2 separate regions of the Homo sapiens genome follow, and region 2 is linked to region 1. The links come from fine-mapping of genetic effects on gene expression. A gene starts in region 1. The other region holds a variant in brackets. All regions are shown on one strand. Distances are from middle to middle. Region 1 holds the start of TBPL1 (TATA-box binding protein like 1). Region 2 has its middle 6.1 kb from the start of SLC2A12.

Region 1 (2,912 bases):
GAGAAGTCAGGTTTAACAAAAGGGGTGGGGAACAAACAGAAGCTGTGGTTGACCTAATTGCTCCTATGATTTATCAATTTTATTTTCATCTTTAATCTTCAACTTTACATAAAGAACTTTGTATGTATATGTGGCCTTTTCATTGTGCTACAGGAAAACCTCATTTACTCACCCAAAATGATTTTGTAAAGTATAAAACCATTAAGCAGCTTGTGATGTAAGACTAAAGAGGTAACATAAACTGATATTTCACTGGGCATACCAAACTGTGAATAATCCTTTCAACCAGATAGTGCTAACAGTCACTTCTCAATAGGAAGGAACTGCCATTTTCTCAAAGAGACTGCGAAATTATGCCAGGATGGCTGAACCTTCTTATGTCTCTTTTTATATTTTCCCAGAGAATCCACATTGCTTACACACACACACGCAAACCTGCTCCCTTTTCTTAAGTCACAGTTTTAAGGCACTGTTCTAAACCCTAAATACAGAAGCTCATGCACTTACTGCCAGTGTCGCTTTGGAACTGCAGGTGACAGATGCAGTCAGAGAGCTCACAGATGTGGATTGACTGCAGTTTGAGTCTTATTGCAATGAGCACATTGACAGAGCCTGCAGATGCACATCTCGGCAGGAGAGATTTTCTTTTTAAGCCCTCATGCCCTATTAGATTTACTTTTAGGGCTTTTATTGGCTATTTTTATCACTTATCCCGACTCTCATCCCTGCTTAGCCCTACCCACAATTCATTTTCTCTTCTTCAGTTCTAGATCCTTCTCCATCAATCCTAATTTTGGTCAAAAATAATAATAAAATAAAGCGAGGCTGCCGGCATTGCCAGAATCAGAAACCGACGAAGCCGCTTTTTGGGAGCTATTAGAGAAGCCGCTGTAAGTTTTCTGAGAAGCAACGGACCCCTAGCATCTTTGCACGGTCCCTCTTCCCCTGGGTGATGGCTCCGAGACAGATGAGGAATCTCTTTTCCCCGTCTTTCCCAGTGGTGGCTTAAACGAAAGATAACCCTTCTTTTCTTATCCTACACCAGGCTCGGTAACGCTCCCAGGTACGGACGCCCCACCCCCAACCCGTTATCCCTAAAGAGATCCCCAAATATCGCCCGGTCCTCTTCAGAACTGAGCCCTCCCTCGGCCACCGGACCGGTTTCCCCCACCTCAGCGGCTGCCCTCCAGTCGCCCGCCCCCACACATCCCACCCCAAGTCTGGCCCGGGCTCCGCACATGCCCACCCCGCGCCCAGACGCCCCGCACCCGGTGCTCAGGCCGCTCAGCCGCCCGCGCTCCCTGTGCCCAGGGTCGCCTAGGGGGTTACCGTGGGAAGAGGGAGCGGTGGCTGAGGACGCGGCGGCAGCGCTGCTGCCGGTTGCGTCGGATGCGAAGGAGAAGCTGGAGGACAAGGATGAGGATGAGACGGGCGCGCTCCCCAGTCTCCATGGAACTCCCGCCCCGGCCCGTTGCTAGGAGCCCCCGAGGCTCGGACTCCGTCTTCCTTGCTTTGTTGTTCCGGGTGCGAGGCGGCCGCAGCTTCCCCGCGACAATAAATAGACTAGACGCTGGGGAGCATAGAGACAGTGCGCGAGGGCTAGAGCGCCGCCGGACAGGGCGCTCCTGGGTGCCTCGCTAGCCACTCATTTCCGGCTCTCACTGCTCCCGTCACTTTCCCCGTCCCCCGCCCCCACCCTTCCTTCCTCCTTCCTGGTCCCCAAATCAGGCCCCTCCTGCCCACCCGCTGGGCTCGGTGGGAGGTAAGAGGTGGGATGGGGGCGGCGCTAATGGGCATCGGACTAGACTTTTTTGTTTAAGAACCGCTTGAAAGGGTTCTGAAAACACCGTGTATCCTTTGTATATTTTTAGTTGATATCTAAACGTGTAGTAATTTCTGGCATACAGTCGAATATTTAGGTGGACTTTTTTGTCAAAACCGTAGAACTTTCTCATCAGCTCATTAAATTTATACAAAAGGTCCTCCCCACCCCCCATTATATAATTGCTAAAGCTAGTCCTTACCGTCCAGACGAGACTTGTTTTCTGCCTGAAAAAAGTCCTTCGCTTTTTCAGTCAAAATGAACCCGTTAATTTATGATGTCGCGATAAATTCCCCTAGTGAGATTCCTCACTAGGCGAATTGGAATCCTGGTCTTAGAGCGACCGGGGATGACAGATGACAGACGGAGGGAAGGAAGTGGGGAGAGATGGAGACACAAGGTGTGGCGAGACGGAGGGATAACGCAGGACCGTATGCCACTTCTGTCGCCTGTCCCACATTCCTTACTCTACGTGGGTTTGCGGTCGGGACTGTCCCTCGGGAACCGAGAGGCGGATCCAGGAAGGATGGGAGTGGGAGAGGGCGGATGCTGGCGAGGACTCAGGCAGCCCGGGATAGGAGGACCTCTAGGAACGGAGACCCTCCGCGGCTCTGCGCCCAAGTAGCCCTGCAGGGGCCGGGGGACCCCGGGGGCGCACAATGGCCCGTTTGAACCGTCGCCCTGGGGCCCGAGTGCGTCCTCGGGGTCCCTCGGGAGTGGCCTGAGAGGCGCTGCCCGCGGGAGCGAAAATCGCGTAACGGCCCTGAGGGCGCCACGCCACGCCACGCCACGCCACGCCGCGCGGAAGCCCCCGGCTCCCGGCCCCACGTTTCCCACTCTCAGGCCGGCATCGGCCTTTCCACCAGAGCTCGGCTGCAGTCAGAAGCCCCTGGCGTTAGTTGAGGTCAATGGCAGCCCTGATTTAATTATTAAAAGACCACGCCGAGCCGGGTTCATGGGTACCTGGCCTCTGATTGGTGGGAATCAGATGAAAAAAATGAAAATGCCACTGCCTTTTTAAAAGAGAAGACGTGGGCTGAATTCTTGGGGTTTTGACAGTAGGCAACCATTTAGGTATTTTATTATTTAC
Region 2 (2,912 bases), 110 kb before region 1:
GCATCTCCACCATATAGTTCATGATGGGACCAGATTGCAGAGGTCGAGTCAGGAAGTGGCAAGAGATGGACCTGGAGGGATCAGCCCATGCAAGACCCTGTGGGGCATTTTAAGCCTCATGAAGAAATTTAGATCAACCCTAAGAACAACTAGAAGTTGGAGAAAAGTTTAAAACAACTGAAAGCCATTTAAGTATTTAGATTTTAGAAAAAATCTTGGCACCACTGTGGAGAATGGGCTTAGGAAAGCAAGAATGCCCACAGGAAGACCTGTTAGAGGCTATTGCAGCTCTTCCCGTGGGAGATTATAAGGTGGCCCGGATTTAGAGGGTGGTAATGGGGATGAGGAGGACTGAATGGAGGTACAAGGTTTTTAGTAAACATGGTCATCTGGAAAGAACTATACTTCTCCAACATATTCATAGGGGCAGAACCAAGTTTTGTGGGGCCTGATGTTTATAAAATTTGGGGGCTCTGTTTTAAAAAATAAGAATACAGGCCAGGTGCAGTGGCTCACACCTGTAATCCCAGCTTTTTGGGAGGCCGAGGCGGGCGGATCACGAGGTCAGGAGATCGAGACCATCCTGGCTAACATGGTGAAACCCTGTCTCTACTAAAAATACAAAAATTTGGCCGGGCATGGTGGCGGGTGACTGCAGTCCCAGCTACTTGGGAGGCTGAGGCAGGAAAATGGCGTGAACCTGGGAGCTGGCAGTAAGCCAAGATTACACCACTGCACTCCAGCCTGGGCGACAGAGTGAGACTCTGTCTCAAAAAAAAAAAAAAAAAAAGGTGAATATTTATTTTGATAAATTACAATTTTTAAAAAATTTAGACAGGGTCTATCTAGCTCTGCCACCCAGGCTGAGGTACAGTGGTGTGATCTCAGCTCAGTGGCATGAGCTCAGCTCACTGAAAACTCTGCCTCCCAGGCTCAGGCAATCCTACCTCAGCCTCCCAAGCAGCTGGGACTACAGACATGTGCCACCATGCCTAGCTAATTTTTGTATTTTTTGTAGAGAAAGAGTTTCACCATATTGTCCAGGCTGGTTTCAAACTCCTGGGCTCAAACGATCTGTCCGTCTTGGTCTCCCAAAGTGCTGGGATTACAGGCATGAGCTATCATGCCTGGCAGTAAATTACAAATGATAAAAAGCTGCCAAGCATTACAAAAATTGCATAATCCAGGAATTACCTGATACACTTCCATAATACTTTTTTCCCTTCATTTTTTGATTGCACACATTTTGATCTTTTTTTTGTAACACAATTTTTTTGTGACATTACTTTCTATATAAAGAAAATAAAAGAACCCAGTCTGTCCTCTAGCATGGCCCTCTGCCATGGCCCTGGGAGCTGTAGGACAAGTTCACACTGAGAGATAGCCTCTAGCCCTGTGCTTTTCCATCTTTGTGCCACGTGAGTGATAATGTGGGATATGCACGGCATGAGATGGCATAGTGAGGAGCAAGAGAATTCCTGGAAGTCTTTTCTAT[T/A]CCAAGAGAGCTAGTGAGGGCTTAACTCTATATTAGTTAAGTGCTTGTGAACTATCCATGAGAAACCAAAACCAGGCCCAGTACAGTGGCTCACGCTTGTAATTCCAGCACTTTGGGAGGCCGAGGCAGGTGGATCACTTGAGGTCAGGAGTTTGAGAATGGCCTGGCCAACATGGTGAAACCTCATCTCTACTAAAAATACAAAAAAAAAAAAAAATTAGCTGGGCATGGTGGTGTGCACCTGTAATCTCAGCTACTCAGGAGGCTGAGGGAGGAGAACCACTTGAACCCGGGAGGCAGAGGTTGCAGTGAGCCAAGATTGTGCCACTGCACTCCAGCCTGAGTGACAGAGTGAGACTCTGTCTAAAAAAAAAAATACAAAAAAAAATTTTTTTTCTAACTTCACTGATCTTAAGTCAGATCCCAAATATTCCATGGCCACCCTTATGTCACATGACACAAAGGAAACAAGATGTTGCTGGCCAGGTGCAAAGCATTAGTGGTCTTAACTGATTGCAGTTATTTCATTTTAGCAAATTTTACAAAACATATCATTATATAAATGCATTGCTGGGTGCCTCCCAGGGTCTTGGAAGGGCTGGTGTGGGTGAGGGGCCCTGCAGCTTAAACTTCATTAGCTTCCTGATTAATCTGCTTCTGCACACATGAAAAAGGACTTATCTAGTTGAGTCTGGTGTCATTCCTAGTTCTTGGTTTAAAGCAACAGAAACCAACTCCAACTTGGAAACTGTAGTCAAGAATAACTCCCCAAATCCTGCTTTGAGCTAATCTAGCCACCCCTGAGCACATACCTAACAGTGTATATCTAGCAACTCTGACATTAAATATTTTGGCCAGAGCCACTGCCACCATCCTCACTGGAAGGTGGGGCCTGTAGATCCTGCTACTTTGTGCTACAGCTTCTGATGCAAAATCCAGGGTGCATGAACTGCTTGGCAGAGCCTGGTCCTAAGAGAAAAGGGAGTATCAGGCCTTTCCAGCTTCTGTTTAGGAGACAGGTTCTTCCTTGCAGAGGGGGATTCCCAACACAGGAAGGATCTTCTGATCCTGGGCAGCCTAGAAGAAAATAAAAGCCCGTGACAAGCTCTAACATGTCCACCTGAGCTGAAATATAATGAGTTCATCTTCAGAAGCTGAGCACAAGGTTTCGCATTTCAGTAAGCTTTCTGCTCCAGATTTTCCCTGAGTTATTCAGATTATTTAAACTTGGAAAGTAGTCATTTTCTGTGCAGTGCCCTCCTTATTGTCTGGCAAACAAGGGACATGTAATGAAAGCAGACCAGAGTTCCCAACCCAATAACTACTGCTTGTTGTCATGTATGATCAAGCAACTTTTTCTGACTTCATGGTATCAAAGGCAGGTTAATCTCAAGGAAAGGTTTAATCATTGAACAGC

Evidence for each region. PIP is the estimated chance that this variant, and not a neighbour inherited with it, causes the effect.
Region 2: its variant is fine-mapped to the expression of TBPL1 in left ventricle (GTEx, PIP above 0.99).

What each region holds. Positions count from the first base shown.
Region 1 is chr6:133,951,843-133,954,754 of GRCh38, reverse strand. TBPL1 (TATA-box binding protein like 1) reads right to left here and starts at 1,531. Exons shown (of 7, transcript NM_004865.4): 1 at 1,330-1,531. LOC128092253 (umcharacterized LOC128092253) reads right to left here and starts at 1,451. Exons shown (of 2, transcript NM_001414965.1): 1 at 1,330-1,451. The coding sequence starts at 1,451. RefSeq lists a silencer at 2,424-2,533.
Region 2 is chr6:134,057,315-134,060,226 of GRCh38, reverse strand. No RefSeq gene overlaps it. Among named protein-coding and RNA genes, the nearest start is that of SLC2A12, 6.1 kb to the right of the region's middle. The variant T/A (reference allele first, on the strand shown) is at 1,496.